3 linked regions of the Homo sapiens genome follow. The protein of the gene in region 1 interacts with the protein of each later gene in a biochemical or structural test. Each region holds a gene or a part of one and is shown in the gene's direction. Other genes may lie near its edges.

Region 1 (7,026 bases):
GAATTTAGTTAGGGGAAGCCTTTGGAGGGAGGGTTTGAAGCAAAGGGAAAGACATCTCATAGAAGCTTAAGAAAATCACTCTGGGCCCTGTGTGGATAATGGCTGGCAGTGTGGCAAGAATGGAGGCAGGATGACCTCTTGGGAGGCTACCGCAGTCATCCAGGTAAGAGGTGAGGGTGGTTTGGGCCAGCAGTGGAGCAGTCAGGGTAGGCGGTGAGAAGTCACCAGATTCAGGAAGTGCCGTGGTGCTGTAGCCTCCAGGACTATCTGGTGGATCACACATGGGCGTGGGGGAAACATGAGTCAGACATGGCTTAGGTGGGTGGTGATTCCTTTCACCACGCTGGGGCAGCTGGGGTGCTAGCTGGAAGAATCTGTAGAGGTGTGGGCCTAGCAGCACAGGTTCCCAGGAAATGTGGGTTGAACAAGGCTGACCTGAGCAGGAAGTAGCTGAGGTCGCGGTGCAGCAGCAGGAAACGTGATATGGATGTGTGATATGTCTGCCACTTTTGGGGCCAGCCAGTTAATTTCGTTTCCTTCCCTGGTCTCTCTGTTGTCTTTGGTAGGCTGTGGGTTTTTCCGAAGCACGTACTATCTTCTAACGTATTATAGAACTTACTTGTTCTACTGTATACTGTCTTTACCCCTCAAGAATGTAAACTCCCAGAAGGCAGGGATTTTCGCCTATTTTGTTCAGTGGTGTATCCCCAGTGCCTAAAACATTGCCTGGCAATACACATTTATTGAACTGCTGGATTTAATTAACTACTTTGATATATGGTCCTAAAGATTCCTGTGCTACCAAAGTTGCTACTCAGTGGAGCTTCCTGGTGTGGCATGTTAGAGAAGAGACCAGAAAAACAGACATTTCACTTGCTGTCAGGTAGTGAAGGAGCTGTGGCTGCTTGGGCACAGTCATTACTGTTTATTCCACTGTGCTGCACATCTTGAAGCTGTAAAGATATAAGAAGTCTCGCACAGCCGGGGTTCAGCTTACAATCCTTCGCACCTAATTGTACGCCTTTGTGTGAGGGTTTGGAGGAGTCTCCAGGAACACCTGGTGTTTCCTTTCTCACAGGTATTTCCAGTCCTCACGGGCAAGTCAGAGAGTCCCAGAGGCAATTGAACAAGCCCTCAGAGATCACGTAGTCCGTTCACTCTCCATGGGAACCCGCACTTCCCTAGAGACCTGTAGCCAAATCATTTGGAGAGCTTCTGAAGCTTCTCTGCCTTCCTCTGTCTCAAAGAATCCCATGTGCCTCTAGTTGAGAAACATTCCTCTGGAGATTCTAGGTTATTCTCATGAGAATGTTACGATACTCAGGTGGGCTGGGGCAGAAAATGGATGAGAACTAGTGTAGTCCAATGGCTTTGCTTTGGTAACTGAACCCACAGAGGAGGAAAATAACAACAGCTCAGCTTTTCTCAGTGTTATACACCAACCATTACGCTAGTTACATGATATACATACTATTTAATTCTCATCCTTTGAGGTCTGGTATCACTATTGCCACTTTACAGATAAGAAAACAAGGGTTGGCCGGGTATGGTGGCTCACTCCTGTAATCCCAACACTTTGAGAGGCCAACGCAGGTAGATCACCTGAGCTGAGGAGTTCAAGACCAGCCTAGGCATCATAGTAAGACCTCCTCTCTTAAAAAAAAAAAAAAAAAGAAAGAAAGAAAATAAAATTAAAAAATGAAAATTAGCCAGATGTGATAGTGCATGCCTGAAGCCTATAGTCCCAACTTCTCAGGAGGCTGAGGTGGGAGGATTGCTTGAGCCCAGCAGTTCAAGCCTGCAGTGAGCTGTGATCACACTACTGCACTCCACCCTGGTGACAGAGCAAGACCCTACCTCAAAAAGAAAAGAAAACAAGGGCCTACAAAGTATCGTATTCCAGGTCACATTGTTGTCACTTGACGGAGCTTTTGATCTCTGAGAGGATCAAAATCTGCCCTCTCAGCTTTAACTTCTCAAAGCTAAACTTGTCCCAATTTGCAGAGTCAAGGGTAGAATCGAGGCCCTCCTGATCTCTATTTTGCAGTCTCCGTCATTCTGTGCTGTTAATACCACAAGAGACAAAAGAGACCTCGTCTGTCCTGTAGCACCCCGTGCCTGCGTGCGTATCTCTTGTCGATGCTCTGTCGGCTCAGGATCTCTCCTACCAGCCTAGAGCTCTTTCAGAGCAGGACGCTTGTGTTATGCATTCATGTTTGTCCCTGTGCCTAGTAAATAGCACAGAGTCCAAGTGGCTACTTGTGTCTTCAGGGGTGTTTGTAAGGGCAGAGCCGGGGTCTTCATTCCCAGGCTGTTGATTCATCCTTGGAGCTGAACATACTGTCCCAATCCTTGGCCCAAGCCAGGCCTCTACAGTTGTCCCAAGGCTGTGCTAAAACCTGTTCCACTTCACAAGTGATCAGAGTCACAGACTCTGGGGACACAAATTTTGAGATGAAGACACAGAGCAAAATATATAAATGTTTTTGAGGTTTGAGTAGCCTTAACGTCCACGTGGCTGTCAGATGGCTCCCCAAAGAAAGGGCTACGCCGGTGGCCTTGAAAGAGTATGGGAGATGCATATGAGACAGGGTCAGTCTAGGAATGTCAGACTCCCCCAACAGTTGGTTGGAGTGTTTTTCCAGATTGCACCAGACTTCACAGAGTAATGGAGACCAGCTGTCCAGGCATCTGAGAGGGTGACATCCAAGGAGAAAAGGCAAACGTCTTGATTGCCCATGATGTGGGCAACCAATTTGGATAGAAAAGAAGGTGTCAGGGTTTAACACTGAATGTAGACTTTATTTACCCAAAGCCTTTCTTTAATTCTAACACTCTCAAAAATGGGGCTCAGTCACCATTTGGGTTTCCCATGTTAATATGCAGAGAGCTAATTCATTGTCTTTCATTGCTGTAATGCAGCAGTTCTCAAAATGTACTCCAGAGATTGACCCTCCTAGGAGTCTGTAGATCAGAACTGTATTTATAATATTACTAAGACATCATTTGCCATTTCAGCTCTTGTCTCATGAATTCATGGTGGAATTTTCCAGAGCTATGTGATGTTTTGACATCATCACTGTGGCAGCTAATGAAATGTCTGCTTGTATATTCTTGTGTTTTAAAAAATTATTAGTTTTAATTTCAAATAAGGTGAATATGGATAGACTTAACCTACATAAAACAGAAGCTTTTTGGCATCCTCAATAATTGAGTGTAAAGGGGTTCTCTTGACCAAAAAAGTTTGAGAACTATGTGTGTAAAATAGTCAGTTGTATGGCTGCACTACAGACAGCAAGCATGGAATTGAAAATACCACCTGCAAGGTGGCGGTTCCCCCTGGTAGAGAGGAGGGGCTCTGGGTCTGGGAGGAGGATGCAGGCGTCACTTGAACTAAACAGCTTTATGACTTGCTGTCAGATTTCCTAGACTGTGTGGTGGGATCGTGGGAACCTACTTCTCACAGGCCTGAAGTACTTCACAATAAACATTTTAAGTCTACTTCATAGCATGAAACCTGTTTCACACCTGTGCCCATTAAGAAAAAAAAATGGCACCCTATAAATGATTTAATAATTACTAAGGGGAAAATATAGCTTTCCATTGGAGATCTGGCAGTCACCTCTTAACCAACCTACAGTCTACATTCAGTTGGCCTGAATTCTTCACACACACAACATCTTTATCAATGAAAAATTTTTAAATAGTTTCACATCCTAGCTTAGCTTGAAAGGGAGTAAGCAGACGGCTCGATCAAATGTAATCCATGAGCAGATCCTACATCCCAAAAAATCAGAAACATTTTGTAAAAATTGGGTAACTTTTTTGTTGTTGTTGCATCGGAGTCTCCCTCTGTCGCTCAGGCTGGAGTGCATTGGAGCTATCTCCGCTCAGTGCATCCTACACCTCCCTGTGCCTCCTGGGTTCAAGCAGTTCTCCTGCCTCAGCCTCCCGAGTAGCTGGGACTACAGGCATGCGCCACTACACCTGGCTAATTTTTGTATTTTTAGTAGAGATGGGGTTTCACTATGTTGGCCAGGCTGATCTCGAACTCCTGATCTCAGGTGATCCACCTGCTTTGGCCTCCCAAAGTGCTGGGATTACATGGGTAAGTTTTAGTATGGACTCTGTATTAGATTTTTAGTAAAGTGTTGATTTTCTTTGTTGTAACAATGGTATTTAAGTTATATATTAGAATATCCTTATATTAAAGAAATGTATGCTCAGGTCCCTAGGACTGAAGTATCATGGTATCTGCAGCTGACTTTCAAATGGCTCAGGGGAAAGACAGAGATAACTCACATGTGGCAAATGTTAACCATGGGCAGGTTTAGTGAAAGGTAAAAGAGTGTCCCTTACATGTTCCTGTAGGTTTGAAATTTTTCAGATTAAAAAGTTGGAGTGAAAAACAGCTTCAAAGCAGGAAGTAAAAGTTGGAGCTGGGTTTTGCTGCGTCGCCAGGTGGAGCAGAAGAGCCTTACTGCACGGCGGAGCGTCAGGTTGCTGTCTAGTCCAGGCTCTGCCGCGGATCAGCCATGGGCGTTGGGCAGGTTACTTCCCTCTCCAGGCGTGTTTCCTAAGAAAATCACTGCAGAATGTTTTTCAGTTCTGATGCGGCTGTGATTTCAAGCGTCTCTGTTTCTCGGTCACTGAATTGGGACATGGCAACGTGGGTGTGCTTCCTCATTCACCTGGGTAGGTGTTGAGAAGTGATGAGGCCCCAGGGTGATGACTGAGGTCCCCCCACCCACCACTCTGCCTTTGCTGACACTCTTCCCTCTGCTTGAAATGGTTCTTTGTTTCCTCTTGAAAAGTCTTGCTTCCCCTTCATGACAACATCCCTTGGGTCCCCTGGGCAGAACTAAATGCCCTCCTCTTGTGACACTTTGCACGTACAGCACTTTTTCCTTTTTCTTTTTTTTTTTTTTTTGGGGAGACAGGGTCTTGCTCTGTCACCCAGGATGGAGTGCAGTGGTGCAAACACGGTTCACTGCAACCTTAACCTCCTCAGCTCAAGGGATCCTTCCACCTCAGGCTTCTGAGCAGCTGGGGCTACAGGCACCCACCACCATGCGTGGCTAACACTTTTTTATTTTGTGTAGAGACAGGATCTGTGTTGCCCAGGCTGGTCTCGAACTCCTGGGCTCAAGCTGTCCTCCCACCTTGGCCTCCCAAAGTGCTGGGATTACAGGTGTGAGCCACTGTGCCCGGCCCTTGTTTTATTTTTCAAATAAATGCAGGAAGAAAGAAAGAGAAAGCAGAGGTGGCCAGATCTCAAGTAAGTCATGCCACCCCCACCACAAAAATCCGTGGAGGCTGAGAAATACAATACCTGGCAAAACTCAGCAAACATAAAAGCCAGCAGTTATTCAAAGATATTTGTTGAGAAACCACTAGGGCCCAGTTACTAGAGCTACCGAGATGAACACTACTTTAAAAACCAAACCAAACAACCTGCCTCATGGAGGCACTTGCCCCTCAGTTCAGTGGCAAGTATGGTAAGTGTTCTGCAGAAAAGCTAAGCAGCTGAGGGGAGCGGCAGGGGCCCGAGGGTGTGCATTAGCATTCTCTTCAGTGGGTTCAGGGAGTCACCCCCGGGGGCGGTGGGGGCGGGGGGTCGGGGAGCAGTGTGAGTAGAGGCTAGAGGAAAGCACAGGAGCAAATCAGGGCCCGGAAACTGATTTCCCAACAGCCAGGGCTCAGGAGCGGGCCCTCAGTGACCTCCACAGTTGATCTGGGCCATTCCACAGACAGGACCCGACAGCCTGCTCCCACTTGGTGAGGCCTGAGGCAATTCTCCAGGCCACAGTGAGGAACCTGCCACCTTGTTTTTCTCGTTAGAAGTTAAAAGAGTAGTAGGTGATAATGACAGCTCTCCATGTGGACACGGAAGGCAGTTTCATGTAGATTCCACCCTAAGTCTTGCCTCATATGGATTTGCTGTTCATTCCAGCCAACATTGTCCTTTTTCAAGATAGTATCTGCTGGGTGCTAATCATGTTTAGTAAACTGCTCTCCTGTTTATTTCATCAGCCTTATTTGATCTCCAGCAAAGGTAAAAGAAAATGCAAAAAGATGATTCTACTTGTTTTACAGAGCTGTAAACTTACCTCCCTGAAGTCTTGTTGCTGGCAAACAATAGAGCCAGACCTGGGGCAGAGCTGGAGCTGTTGTCCACAGTGTTCTCACTTCCCCGCGCTGACTCCATGGTGAGGGCTGGCCTTAACTCTCTGTACCCAGCCTTGCTTCCCAGCACAGCACTGCTTCCTGGTGGGCACCAGCCAGCCAGACTTTCTCTAAAGTACTCTCTCTCTGTCTGCCCCTCTCCACCTTGGGAAAGACAGTGGTCAGAAAAGGGGCAGTCCAGAGAAGAGCCAAGCCATGCGGTGTCATGGCAGCCAAGGGAGAAGTTTCACACAGGAGGCGAGGAGGGCAAGAAGGAGGGCAAGAAGTCTGTGGCAAGAGCAGAATGGCGAGGCTGGGGCAGGCTGAGGGGAGACAGGGTGGGGCTGCCTGTGGGCAGAGGGGAGTTCATAGTGTGAGAGAGTTCTCCGAGAGCTGGAAGGAGAGGCCTCCAGATGGCAGGAGGCAGGGTCCTGTCCAGCAGTGTCTCTGACTTGACTCCCTGTGTGACTTGGGGGAGCCACACAATGAGAAGTGGGAATAAATGTGATAATGACCTCGTGATGGTGGTTTGAGCATTGTGTGAAGTCAGGTGAAGATGTCACCTATGTTACCAGAGCCAAGCTGCATGGCTGCAGGGGCTCTTCTGAACTAGCAAGTGATGTGCTTCAGAGAGAGACTGGAATTTGGCAAAGGAGAAAGCCCCTGTCTCCTCCTGTGTGCCGGGCCTTGTCTTGGGGCTCTGTGGGTAGACCCCAGCTCTGCTCTGCACTGGAGTGCCCAGACAGGTCTGTGTGAGCACCTCAGTGTGGGCTGCTCCGCTCCCATCCAGGAGGCTCCTTACTGATGGTTCTCAGCCCAGCTTTTAAGATTCACTTTTGTTGCTTGTATGTTGAAGGTAAA
Region 2 (7,026 bases), on another chromosome or scaffold:
ATAGTTCTAGTTAAAAAAAAAAATGCAGATTTTATTTTTTAAAAGTACTTTCATGTATCTCATTGACATAAGCTGGTCACAGTTTGCTTTATGGCCCTTTCTCTTTAGCTGTATCAGTGACCATCTTTCTAGTAAGTTTACTTGCTACTCGGTACACATCCATTCAAATAACTGATTTTTTTGGTGTGGTTTTCTTCTACTTTTTCCTAGGCTAATATATGCCACGTGCCTTTAAGTAGACCTAATTATTTAGATGTTTAGAATTCTTCTCCCTCTGAAGGCTCCTGTTAGTATAATAAATAAATGTTTTAGTAGGAGTTATGCCCTGAAAGTCCCAAAAGAATCTCCGCTGTTTTTGTCAGAATTATATAATTCCCTTTTATCCCCTTAATATTTCACTAACAAATATGGGTCCCAAATCTTGGTAAAACAAATTCTTGTTTTAGCTTTATAACAGACTGGGAGAGCATGGATAATTTGAATTCTCAAATCAGAAATCATATTTGAAACTCTGTAAACATTGCTTTAAAAATTAAAGGTGATAATAAATAGGACAATTGATCCTTTTTCCTGCATTATTTCTTCTGCCACTCTTGGAAGTACTCAGGAGGAATAAGTGGTCAGAAGATAATTGAGAAGAAGCAGGATGTCTGTCTGTATCATTCACAGTAGTGACAGTTGGGAGGGTTCTGCCATGCAATTTAAAAAAGTCAGTTCACAAATTCTTTAGACTTTGGGACTGAAGGTTATAAAAACCTTCATGTGTTGACTGGTTTGCATGAACATCTCATGCTGGGACTAGCTAAAGACTAAAATTGGTGGCAGTCTTACTTGCCAAATAATTGTGGTCTTTGGAATGTTACCAATATGACATGAAACTGTAAAACTTGTTTGTAAAATAATATGCAGACTGGGTAGCATAATGATGTACGGAAGCCAGGGTTCATAATTTCTCAAATGCATCAAGCTATTTAGCTTAAAGAAGTGGTGTGTTCAAATTTTTTTTTTCTTAATTCATGAGATGACCTAGAGTGCCATCTCATGCATTTAGGCTGACTCTTAGTAGTAATAAATATTTGATGATTATCAAATTGAGCTTAATATTCTTTCAGGTTTATTTCAGTTTTCTATCTTGTAGATTAAATTTGCCTCTTATTCTATATAACTTTATAGGAAAGTCATACTTTTAGAGTTATAGGATCTTATAGCTGAAAGGGACCTTACAGGTTGTTTAAGCTTTAAATAATATGTGATTTAAGATGCTTTGAGGATCACTGGTTAAATGTTAGTAAAGAAAGATAAAGAATTTTCCCTGCTGGATGGCAGTACTCAAAAATTTCCCATTGGGAGGCTGAGGCGGGTGCATCGCTTGAGCTCAGGAGTTGGAGACCAGCCTGGGCAACATGGTGAAACCCCATCTCTACAAAAACTATTTAAAAATAAGCTGGGTGTGGTGGTGTGCGTCTGTCGTCCCAGCTACTTAGGGGGCTGAGGCAGAAGGATTGCTTGAACCTGGGAGGTCGAGGCTGCAGTGAGTCAAGATCACGCCTTGCACTCCATCCTGGGTGACAAAGTGAGACCCTATCTCAAAAAAATAAAGATTTTCTGTAGAGATTTCTATCAATAAAATTATGTGTGAGGCTGTCTTCTTCCTCAGTGTCCATAGTAAATACTGTTTTCATGTCTTTTGTGTTTTCTACACAAAGGACATGCAGGTCCTGCCATCTTTATCACAGATGATTATGCCTTTGCCCCAGAGTCATGCTAGCTGGCTCTTTTTTTTTCCTCCCTATTTGAGTCTTTATTTTCCTCTATCAGTGAGAAGAGTAGAGTAATTGAGTTAAGGTCCCTTTCAGCTCTAACATCCTATGATTCAGTTCAGATCATTTGATAAGAGTAGATATCAGATTTTATGGGATGATATGGAAAGAACAGAAAATTCCTTTAGTAATGCCTCCCTAATTCTATTTATTCAGTGCTTTTTTTTTTTGGTCTTTGGTCAGTAAACTGATAAATGAATAATTGCTTTTTACAAATGAGTTTGATTTTCTTGCTCCTATATTGAGTAAGGCTGGCTCTAATAGATCTTATTTTATTTCAGTTCCTGCTACCACATGAGCCCAAGTCGTCACTCTCCCATGCCTAGGTTATTCAACAGTTTTTGAGTTGAGTTGGTTTTCTTGCTTCAAGGATGCCCCCCTGCCCCCACAAATTTTAGATTTCAATGTGTTATCTCCTTGCCCAAGAATCTCCAGTACTTTCAGTGCCTATAACATAGTATCTAAATTCCACAGCTTAACTTTAAAGAACCTCCCCATAGTACATGTCAAAGCAGGATTCAAGGCTGCATGTCTTTACACTCCCTAATTTGAACTTAGGCTGGTCTTTTCACGGTGTCTTGAGTGATTATATTAGTTCACAACTTCAAACTTAGGCTGTTCTTCTTACCCTCCTGCCCCCAGCTCAGTATCACCATGAAGTTTGCTTTGCTTACCTATGTTGTACTATTTCAAGTCCTGCCTTCTCCAAAAGTTTCTCAAAAATGACTTTTGCCAACATATACCTCCCCTTCAGATTATTAAAGAAAATATTTGTAATCTACCCATAACTCTTACCGTTTCACTTATTTTGGCACCTAGTTATTGACTTGTTTTATGGTTTCTTAATTTGCTTTAATTTTCCAACAAGTAATAGATTGTAAGCTCTTAGAGGGCAGGGGCTATGTTCTGTACTTTTTAAGAAGCCTATAGGTGCTGAGCACAGTTCTTGGCACATCATGGGTGCTCAGTAAAATACTTGTTGAATGAATGAAACAAATACACAGGTATTCTTTCCTGCAGTATAAGCCCATAAGTCAGTCAGTGTTAAATGTGACTGTTTCCAGTGGTTACTTGTGACTTTACGTTGTTACTACTTATTCTTGTTTTTAGTGTCTGCCTCTTTACTCTTACTTTTTCATTTGACAAAAATGGAAGATAAATAAGATGAAATAAATAATTTTTGTTTGGAGAATAAAACTAAAATATTTCCATTTGCAGTCGACCCTCTGTATCCAGAGATTCAAGCAACTGCGATGGAAAATAGTCTTTAAAAAAGCAACAACAAAAAAATACAAATTTTTAAAAATAAAGTATAATAACTTTTATAGCATTTACATTGTGTAAGGTATTATAAGTAATGTAGAGGTAATGTAGAGGAAAAAATAACAAAGTAGGATATAGGCCTTGCAGAGAAATTTAGTGTATTGGTACCTTAGACTTACCTGACTGATTTGACAAATTTATTTGTTGCTGTTCCTTCTGAATTACCCTTCCTTTTGAGTAGCTACAGGATCCATGCCATTGAATTGGGCATTAGCCAGTGACAAAAAAGAGATAGAATTTTTGTTTTTTAGGTCATCTGCTCATAATTCTTGAATCTGGGTAACTTCTGGGTACATGTGGATGACTCAAGCAAGTACTTTTAAAAAATATCTTAACTCAGACCTAATGTCTGTAAATTCTTGACTCAATGTGGTTAGATTTTTGACAAATGTTAATAGTGAGACTACAAATACGTTTATTTTCATTATCTTTAGATAGCAGTTCATTTAAATATGAGCTCATCTATTCACAAACTTAGTGTGGAAAGATCTAAGGAGGACCACATCAGTTGAGAAGAATGACCGGCATCCCCTGCTCCCCTTTTGAAATTCACAAGGCATAATATTTACTAAAGTGATGAGAAGTCTTGCAGAAGCCTTTTACAATTTTTACTTAGTATTTCTGTCTTATTTGACCATCTCCCCCATAAATCTCCCACATAAAGCATTTGTTTTGCTTTGTGTAGCACATTGTATGAAATTAGCATTTTGTGAGAAATGCTGAATTAGGGCCCTTTATTCTTTTAGTTTGCTCTTTAGGAGAAAAAGGCAACATCAAAATAAGTTAGTGTTAACACACATATGCATAAACGAAACAGCTTGTGTAGTGCAATGAATGTATTCATTAGATAGTGGATCAAAAGAGGAAACAAGTCAATAGATTAACCTTTGATTTTTAAATTAGGCTTGTTGAATATCATGATAAGACTAATAGTAGTATTAATAGATAGTAAAGATTTGAGGCTAGGCACGGTGGCTCATGCCTGTAATCTCAGCACTTTGGGAGCCCGAGGTGGATGGATCACTTCAGGTCAGAAGTTTGAGACCAGCCTAACCAACATGGTGAAACCCCATCTCTACTAAAAATACAAAAATTAGCGGGACATGGTGGCGCACACCTGTCATCTCAGCTACTTGGGAGGCTGAGGCAGGAGAATTGCTTGAACCTGGGAGGTGGAGGTCTCAGTGAGCTGAGATCGCGCTATTGCACTCCAGCCTAGGCAACAATAGCAAAACTGTCTCAAAAAAAAAAAAAAAGATTTGGTACATATGCTACACCATAGCAGTGTACTAGGGATTTTGGGGTTTGTTTGTTTGTTTGTTTTGAGACAGAGTGTCTGTCACCCAGGCTGGAGTGCAATGGTGCAATCTCCACTTACTGCAACCTCATCCTCCCAGGTTCTCCAAGTAGCTGGAATCACAGGTGCGTGCCACATGCCTAGGTAATTTTTGTATTTTTAGTAGAGTCAGGGTATCGCCATGTTGGCCAGGCTGGTCTCGAACTCCAAGGCGCAAGTGATTCTCCTGCCTTGGCCTCCTAAAGTGCTGGGATCACAGGCATGAGCCGCCTTGCCCAACCTGTTTTTAACCTAGAGAAATAGGTCCATGTTGTGAAGGTTTATAAGTAGGAATTAATAGATGACATTCCAAGTAGAAATTATCAGTCTCATTCTTATTTTTTTCCTTACCTTTATTTTTCTTTTATTCAGTACACATTTAAGTATCTTGGGTGTGGTACCTAGTGTACAGGTGATGTATGCCCTGCTCTCAAGGAGGTCATTCCTGAGATGCCATTTTGAACTCATTTTTGTCTTCTAACTGCTGATTTGGTTGTTATGGTATTTCCGTACATTTGGAAATCTAGTGGCTATGAATATTTTATACAGGTTGAGTATCTGTAATCTGGAAACCAGAAATGCTCCAAAATCTAAAACTTTGAGTGCCAACATGACACTCGAAATAAATGCTCATTGGAATGTTTCAGATTTTTGAATTAGGGATGCTCAACCAGTAGGTAAAAAGGCAAATATCTGCAAATCTGAAAAAATCCCAGTCTGGTGTCAAGCATTCTGTATAAAGGCCTCTCAACCTGTATTTGCCTTCTTTCGCTGTCTGGTCAAGTACTTGTACATTATGTATCACTTATTTTAAGCAAGTTAGTTGTACTTAGCAGTTATTAGAGATGTGATTGTTGGAAGTGAATGTTCAGTGTTGCAAAGTGAAAATAGCACTCAGGCAAAAGTTTTCTCAGCAAGGCAGTTTACTTCTGTAGAAGGGTGTGTCTTGCAGATGGAGCAATCGTGAGATGGACAAGGGAGGGGAAGAGGTTCTTATTCTTAACACAGCTGGTCCCCACTGTTGTGTCTTTCCCCTACTGGCTAGGGTTGGACCGCACAATCTAAAGTGACCCAGTTGACTAATGTTTGAAATTGAACCCAGCTGTCTAGGCTGGAAGGGAAAGGCTATCCATTATGACACAATGCATGTCTAGGAGAAGGAAGAGTTTATCTGAATAAGGTGGAGGAGAGCTGAGGAAGGTTTTGGTGAGAGCTGTTTTTATAAGTCTTTGCACTAAACTATGAGTACAGGGTATGATACAGCATCCTGTAAGAATGAGCACACCTATAATGGCTGTAAGAGAAGGATTGAGGCTATGATTCCTTTTCATTTACTGAACTACCTCTCTAGCCATGTTGAGAAAGGGTTATCGACTCCAGAATTTTTAGTTAGTTCATTGGATAAAGCGGTAAGTCTTTGTAAGACGCTTATTATGTTCCCAGTGGGGTCAGTGTTGTTTGGGATAAAGGTACAACAGTGAATTTTAATCATAACACAAACATCCCCTATTTTGGCTAATATATCTAGGGCCATTCTGTTTTCTCAGGCCATCTGGCTAGTGGGCCCCAATTGTTCTGTTACCCTTTGACAGCATCCGTGGTGTAATTATAAACCACTGCTGATTATAATAAATGTAATTTATCCAATCTACGTTTTTATTAGTTGTCACTCACAAAAATATTGACTCAAATCCTGCAGCTATTTGATCTCGAGTTTTAAATTTAAGAGCATTCACATCTTGATATCCTGTCTCAGTTGCCAAAGTTTGTTTTAGGTCTTTAACTTCTACAATAGCTACCTTGGTCTTTTCATTAGATGGAGGAGGAGCAATAGTTTTGTTGTGAGAGGTTTTGGAAGAAGGCTTAGGGGAAAGTGTAGGCAGTAGGGGATCAATGCAGCATATTTCAAAGGATCCAATAGGTTCTGTTCCTGAAACCTCAGCCCCCATGCCATAAAACTGGCTTAAAGAAGGGAACCGGCTTATAGAAGGGGAAGAACTTGGAGGGTTTGAGATAATAACCTGTATTGGACAGTACTGGTTTAGCTCACAGCTAGGGGAAGCTGTTTCTTTAGTAAAGTGAATGTATGGCTTTAGGAAATTACAGCTACTGGTTGGGGCAGTTTATCCGTGCTCTTTAGTGGTCTACAGAACGTTTACAACTACTGGTTGGGGCAGTCCATCTGTGCTCTTTATTGGTCTACAGAACATTGGACCAACTGCAGCATAAAAGCTCTGTCTTGGCGGGGTGTGGGGGGCAATACTCCCAGTTGACATTGGGGTCTTTATTGAAACCTTTCCAGACTAAATGATCCCGATTCACTAATATCCAGTCTGAGCAGAGCCAGGAAGGACAGAGGTACTTTTTTGGAGTGGAGAGCTGCTTCGACGTGTCAAGTCTCCACAGGGTATAACAAGGCAAGCATCAAATATAATAGTTTGAGGCGAAATTGACTCGGTTACATTAATAATGAGGTGATCAGCAATAGAGAGGAAAGAAGAAGGAGTAATAGAATAGATGAAAGAGAGTTAAATTTTCCTTAGCTTT
Region 3 (7,026 bases), on another chromosome or scaffold:
TTTGGCTTTTTAGAGTTATTGGTGGTAGCCACAGACAAATATACAAATGTCAGCTAAATAAATTTTTTTAGGCTGGGCGTGGTGGCTCATGCCTGTAATCCCAGCACTTTGGGAGGCCAAGGCAGGCAGATCACCTGAGGTCAGGAGTTCAAGACCAGCCTGGCCAACATGGGGAAACCCACCTCTACTAAAAATAAAAAAATTAGCTGGGCATGGTGGTGGGCGCCTGTAATCCTAGCTACTTGGGAGGTTGAGGCAGGAGAATCACTTGAACCCGGTGGGGGCGGAGGTTGCAGTGAGCTGAGATTGTGCATTGTGCTCCAGCCTGGGTGACAAGAATGAAACTCCATCTCAGTAAATAAATAAATAAATAAATAAATAAATTTTTTTTAGTGTCCTGTAATCAAGGCAGTTGTACTTGGCATTTCTTAACCTGAATGTGTCTCGCCTTTAGAGATGCTGATGAAACCAAAGAATGGATTGAAGAGAAGAATCAAGCTCTAAACACAGACAATTATGGACATGATCTCGCCAGTGTCCAGGCCCTGCAACGCAAGCATGAGGGCTTCGAGAGGGACCTTGCGGCTCTCGGTGACAAGGTGAGAGGACCCAAAGTCATCTTCTGTCTGGCATTTTTGCCCCAGAAAGAGCAGAGTCTTCTGTTCTGCAGAGCATACCCCCTTACTGCAAGCTCATTCACCACTTTCTTCCCATAGGTAAACTCCCTTGGTGAAACAGCAGAGCGCCTGATCCAGTCCCATCCCGAGTCAGCAGAAGACCTGCAGGAAAAGTGCACAGAGTTAAACCAGGCCTGGAGCAGCCTGGGGAAACGTGCAGATCAGCGCAAGGCAAAGTTGGGTGACTCCCACGACCTGCAGCGCTTCCTTAGCGATTTCCGGTACGGAGCCATGTTCACTCAGACTTCTGGAACATAGAGCCTTCTTTGTAGGGGTCATTTTTATTGTGAAAATAGTACATGCTCAGCAGGGTACAATGGCTCACACCTATAATCCAAGCACTTTGGGGGGCCAAGGCAAGCGAATTGCTTGAACTCAGGAGCCGGAGACCAGCCTGGGCTACATGGCGAAACCCTATTTCTATTATAAAATTTTAATTTAAAAATCAAAAACGGCCAGGCACAGTGGCTCACGTCTATAACCCCAGCACTTTGGTAGGCCAAGGCGGGCAGATCACCTGAGGTCAAGAGTTCAAGACCAGCCTGGCCAACATGGCGAAATGCCGTCTCTACCAAAAGTACAAAAATTAGCCAGGTGTGGTGGCAGGCATCTGTAATCCCAGCTACTCAGGAGGCTGAGGCAGGAGAATCGCTTGAACCTGGGAGGCGGAGGTTGCAGTGAGCCAAGATCGTGCCACTGCACTCCAGCCCGGGCAACAAGAGTGAAACTCCATCTCAAAAAAAAAAAAAAATTAAAAACAGAAAAAAGTAGTACATAATCAATGTAAAATAGTCAAACTACTGAATGCCATATTGTTAAAAATAAGTCTCTGCAGCCGGGCACGGTGGCTCACGCCTGTAATCCCAGCACTTTGGGAAGTCAAAGCAGGTGGATCACGAGGTCAGGAATTCAGGACCAGCCTGGCCAATATGGTGAAACCCCATCTCTACTAAAAATACAAACCAGCCGGGCGTGGTGGCACACTGGCACACACCTGTAATTCCAGCTACTCGGGAGGCTGAGGCAGGAGAATCATTTGAACCTGGAGGCGGAGGTTGCAGTGAGCCGAGATCGCACCACCGTACTCTAGCCTGGGCGATGGAGCAAGACTCTGCCTCAAAAAAAAAAAAAAAAAACAAGTCTCTACTTTCCTATCCAAGTATGGGCATACTCCCTCTCATCTCCTTGCCATATGACATTATATTTTTCCCTAGACATATATATATATATATTTTTTTTTTGGGGGGGGAAGCGTTTCGCTTTTGTGCCCAGGCTGGAGTGCAGTGGTGCGATCTCAGCTCACCGCAACCTCCGCCTCCTGGGTTCAAGCGATTCTCCTGCCTCAGCCTCCCAAGTAGCTGGGATCACAGGCATGCACCACCAAGCCCGGCTAATTTTGTATTTTTTTTAGTAGAGGCGGGGTTTCTCCATGTTGGTCAGGCTGGTCTCGAACTCCTGACCTCAGGTGATCCACCCACCTCGGCCTCCCAAAGTGCTGGGATTACAGGCGTGAGCCACTGCGCCTGGTTGTCTTTTTCTTCTTTTTATTGAGGTAAAAGCCACGTAACATACAATTAACTACTTTAAAATGTGCAATCCAATGACATTTAATGTATTCACGGTGTTGTGCAGCCACCCCTCTCTAGTTTTGGAACATTTTCATTGCCCTAGAATAACATTCCTTAACTAATCACCCCCTCTTCTCTCTTCCCCACCCACTAGGAATCCTTTATCTGCTTTCTATGTCTATGGATTTGCCTCTTCTGGACATGTCATATAAAAGGAATCATACCATATCTGACCTTACACACTCAGTTTTGTGCCCTTGTGGTTGTACAGCTGTGAGAAACTGGATCAAATGTATGCCCAGGCCTAGGGCTTCAAGGGTTAATCCTAAAGAAAGGCTTTTTCTTTTTTTTCTTTTTTTTTTAGAGACAGGGTTGCACCACATTGCCCAAACTGATCTTGAATTCCTGAGCTCAAGCGATCCTCCTGCCTCAGCCTCCCAAAGTGCTGGGATTACAGGCATGAGCCACCACGCCTGGCCAACAAAAGCTTTTTCATTTGAAGCTATCAAAGACTTAATTGTAGCTAGAACTTGTTATTCTGGAGGGTGAAAAGATCTTAATTATAAGCCTACTGACTTTTCCTCTGAGAAATTCGGACTTTTAAAAAAATAACAAGAAGTTTTTTAACACTTTGCCCAAAGACCTAGCCTCATTCAGTAGATCAGATTAACCCAAGATAACTTTCTGAGGCAAGAATTATGTCATTCTCTGTTTTCCTGGGCAGAAGATCTCCTTACCAGGTAATATAATAGCTATTTTTCTGGGGTGCTGGTTTCCAGGGACCTCATGTCTTGGATCAATGGAATACGGGGGTTGGTGTCCTCAGATGAGCTAGCCAAGGATGTCACCGGAGCTGAGGCATTGCTGGAGCGACACCAGGTGGGTGGACCTGCCTGCTGAGTAGCAAAGACGTGGCTGCTCTGCAGGGCCCTAGAGGCCTCATTCCCACCCTTTGTGGTGAGTCGGTGGTTGACGTCAGAGTGGGCATCTGCTGCCAGTTACCTAATCCCTTCCCTCCTTTTGGCAGGAACACCGGACAGAAATCGATGCCAGGGCTGGCACTTTCCAGGCATTTGAGCAGTTTGGACAGCAGCTGTTGGCTCACGGACACTATGCCAGCCCTGAGATCAAGCAGAAACTTGATATTCTTGACCAGGAGCGTGCAGACCTGGAGAAGGCCTGGGTTCAGCGCAGGATGATGCTGGATCAGTGCCTTGAACTGCAGGTGTGTGTGCTCCTGGTTTCTGACCAAGTGTTTCCTTGCTGAAGGGCCTCATTTTCTCACCTGCCTCTTGCCCTCTTTAGCTGTTCCATCGGGACTGTGAGCAAGCTGAGAACTGGATGGCTGCCCGGGAGGCCTTCTTGAATACCGAAGACAAAGGAGACTCACTGGACAGCGTAGAGGCTCTGATCAAAAAACATGAAGACTTTGACAAAGCGATTAACGTCCAGGTGAGGCCTCTGGACCATGGAGTTGGAGTCTGGATTTTTCCTGATTGACATCTGTTTCTTGGCTTATATAGTCACTGTTATATCTCCAAGGAATACCTGCGTTGTCTAAGAAAAATATGTACATAAATAATCTTTAAAACTTTATAGATTCTGGTATTTCTGAGATTTTAATAATGGGGGTGCCACAGGAAAAAAAAATATTATCAAAGGGATGGAAAACAAATGTGTGGGTAGGTAAGGGAATAATGAACAAACAACAAGGAAGATGTAAAACTGTTTGATTTATACGTCACTTTGCTGTAAATCTGACAGCATTTTCCTATTATCAGGCTTAATTTTGTTCTGTTCTGATATTCTAACACCTGCCCCACCTGAGTGACCTGGAGACTTCTTGAGTTAAACTCTACTCTAGTAATGAATGAAATCAAGCTTTCTTTTGGCATTTTACACTCTTGCTTCTAAAGTGTCAGTGTATTCTGATCCTGCCACCAGCTAGTTCTCAGTCACCCAAAATAACTATCCTTTTCTCAAGACTGGCAGTCCAGGCAGGGCCCAGCCACAGGCCCACCTTGATCTCATGCCTTTGTTTTCTGACAGGAAGAGAAGATTGCTGCTCTGCAGGCCTTTGCCGACCAGCTCATCGCTGCCGGCCATTATGCCAAGGGAGACATTTCTAGCCGGCGCAATGAGGTCTTGGACAGGTGGGTGTCCTGTGGCACTGACATAGTCACCAGCCCTGAGAGGATGCATCCCCTCATACGAAGGCCCAGGCCTGTTCTGTCTCCCCACTTCCTTCTCCACGGTAAGATATGCTCATGTTGGATCTCATGGTTTCACTCTTTCAGGTGGCGACGTCTGAAAGCCCAGATGATTGAGAAAAGGTCAAAGCTAGGAGAATCTCAAACCCTCCAACAGTTCAGCCGGGATGTGGATGAGATTGAGGCTTGGATCAGTGAAAAATTGCAAACAGCGAGTGATGAGTCGTACAAGGATCCCACCAACATCCAGGTAAGCTGAAGTGACTGGGTGTTGGTCTTGATGTAGCCTTATGTTATTGAGTAGATTTTGTTAAATAAAGCATTTATAAAACAATCTCCTTGCACCCATGGGAAGTCAGTGAGAAATATTTCAGTAAGCCCAGCCAGTGGGAAAGCCCTAGTCAAGTTTCAGAGCCATTTAAAAGTTGCCTTCCTCATTTGTCTCCATTAAAACTATTTCTGCTGTAATAAAAGTCTATAGAATCCCCCTTCTATTACTGTTCCCAAATGCTGAGCTTCCTGGGGGAAGTATGACAAAATGAGTTTCTATTTAATAGCTGATATGTGTGTCCACATCAGTGTACTGAACTCTTGTTCTTTTAATCTGTTTTTGTAGCTTTCCAAGCTGCTGGTAAGTTTTTAATTTTTTTAAGAGTTGTAGTTAAATGAGCTCCAGTATTTGTGTTACTCTGCGTAGATTATTGTTATTATTGTGGTCACACGGTTTGCTGGTGTCTCTTCATCCATCCTTTTCATTTCTAATCATCCATTACACTCCATTCAAGTGTCCCTGTGGGATGTGGCTTTTTCTGTTGTAATTAGCCTGCAACGCCTTACTCCCCCTTCTCTCCCCCAGTTTATCACTTAGGCAAATTCTGTACAGTGTTTGATTTGCGGGGCAGTAATTGACCATTTTCTTTCAAGGAGTGCTTCCTTTTGAAGATGGAACATCAGCTTCAGCTTTTTCTGTGTAGACATTGGCTCAGACTTGCTATGAGCTCATGGTGTTCGGTGGCCTGGGTTGGGGAGGCCAGTCTGGTGTGAGGGTTTTAATGCATACCCACTCTGGCATCCAGAGGTGCCAGTCAGGAGAGGAACAGCTAGAGAACTGTAGAGAGACGGATGGTCTATTAATACCTCCAAATCTTCAAGGAACACAAATGAGAAGTTAAGATAAAAGCAGACATCACTCAACAGGTAGTGAAAGGAGACTTCAGTCAACATGTAGCTCAAAGTTACTTAAGCGGGTGGAAGAAATGAAGATAGAGAAGAGAGTAAATGGGATTTGAACCAAAGGGTGATCAGAACAAGGAACAGAAGAAGAGGGTAATGGGACTTTTGTCAGGATATCTGAGTGTTTGAGACCCTTTTCCTTCTTGGCTTTGGGATCAGGCGGTGGGAGAACGTAACAAGGACATTTCATGTTAGTGCTGAATTGAGCCAGATGGCTCCATCCTTTGACAGTTGCTGCCTCTGAAATGAAACATTTGATGCAGAATTCCCCAACACTACTGCCTTTTAGTTGTTTTTTTTTTGCCCCCCAAATAACACTCCCCTGAGACCCTGCATTTCTTACCCAGCCAATTGTTTTTCCCAGAATTGTGGCATAGCTGCTATGTCCTTGCAATTGTCTCTTGTAGCATTTCAGTACCTTCTGTTTCTTTATGGATTCATAAAAACCATATCAGGCGCCCAGGATCAGGAGCCCATCCTTCTCCTAGCCCTTTCATTTCCCAGTAAAATAAATTCCTTCCTGCAGTCAAGCCTGGGTTCTGACAGTATCCCAGTGTTTTGATTAATGACAGCTACCTAAAGATAAATCAACAAAGCCAATGTCTGTAGTAGCTGTAGATTTCTCCTCTGTCAACAGAGGGAAAAGACTGACCATCAAATATTATTTTGCTGGTTATTACAATTTATGTTATGAATTTTGCTTAATGGTGATTTCTGCTTTAGATAATGAAATGTCCATATGTATCTCATTCATTACAGCCTGTCTCCAATAAGGAGAAAGCCATGGATGGAAATTGATGTACAAGCAGATTCAAAACTGAAGTTGGCCATTGCCATCTTCTGGAAAGTGTTAGGAAGTGTGTAATTCTAGGGCTTCACTCCCAAATAGCTAGCATAGCTACTGCAAGAATTGATTTTTTGGCCAGGCTTGGTGGCTCATGCTTGTAATCCCAGAACTTTGGGAGGCCAATGTGGCTCGATTGCTTGAGCTCGGGAGTTCAAGACCAGCCTGGGCAACATGGCGAAACCCCATCTCTACAAAAAATAGAAAAATTAGCTGGGTGTGATGTCATGCACCCATGGTCCCAGCTATTCGGGAGGCTGAGGTAGGAGGATTGCTTGAGCCGAAGAGGTTGAGGCTGCAGTGAGCTGAGATTACGCCACTGCACTCCAGCCTGGGCAACTGAGCAAGACCCTGTCTCAAAAAAAAGGACTTCCAGTTCATCTACTCCTGAGCTAGTACATTTCCTTCCTCCTTTGCTAACTCCCCAAGAGATGAACCCTAAAATATTTCATACAAACTCCAATTGCCTTCTGTTAAAAACGTTGGCATTTACC

Evidence for each region. The genes of interacting proteins can lie anywhere in the genome.
Region 2: the proteins of EVL (region 1) and PRPF40A form a complex in vitro, tested with the Homo sapiens proteins (one study listed by BioGRID).
Region 3: the proteins of EVL (region 1) and SPTAN1 form a complex in vitro, tested with the Homo sapiens proteins (one study listed by IntAct).

The regions. Positions count from the first base shown.
Region 1 is NC_000014.9:100,068,407-100,075,432, forward strand, and holds part of EVL (ena/VASP-like protein), read left to right. Parts: intron 1-7,026. UniProt on the Homo sapiens protein: Ena/VASP proteins are actin-associated proteins involved in a range of processes dependent on cytoskeleton remodeling and cell polarity such as axon guidance and lamellipodial and filopodial dynamics in migrating cells.
Region 2 is NC_000002.12:152,707,443-152,714,468, reverse strand, and holds part of PRPF40A (pre-mRNA-processing factor 40 homolog A), read left to right. Parts: intron 1-2,101; exon of another isoform or gene 2,102-2,165; intron 2,166-7,026.
Region 3 is NC_000009.12:128,604,580-128,611,605, forward strand, and holds part of SPTAN1 (spectrin alpha chain, non-erythrocytic 1), read left to right. Parts: intron 1-454; coding exon 455-599; intron 600-716; coding exon 717-898; intron 899-3,024; coding exon 3,025-3,124; intron 3,125-3,272; coding exon 3,273-3,470; intron 3,471-3,550; coding exon 3,551-3,697; intron 3,698-4,294; coding exon 4,295-4,398; intron 4,399-4,542; coding exon 4,543-4,705; intron 4,706-5,071; coding exon 5,072-5,086; intron 5,087-7,026. UniProt on the Homo sapiens protein: Fodrin, which seems to be involved in secretion, interacts with calmodulin in a calcium-dependent manner and is thus candidate for the calcium-dependent movement of the cytoskeleton at the membrane.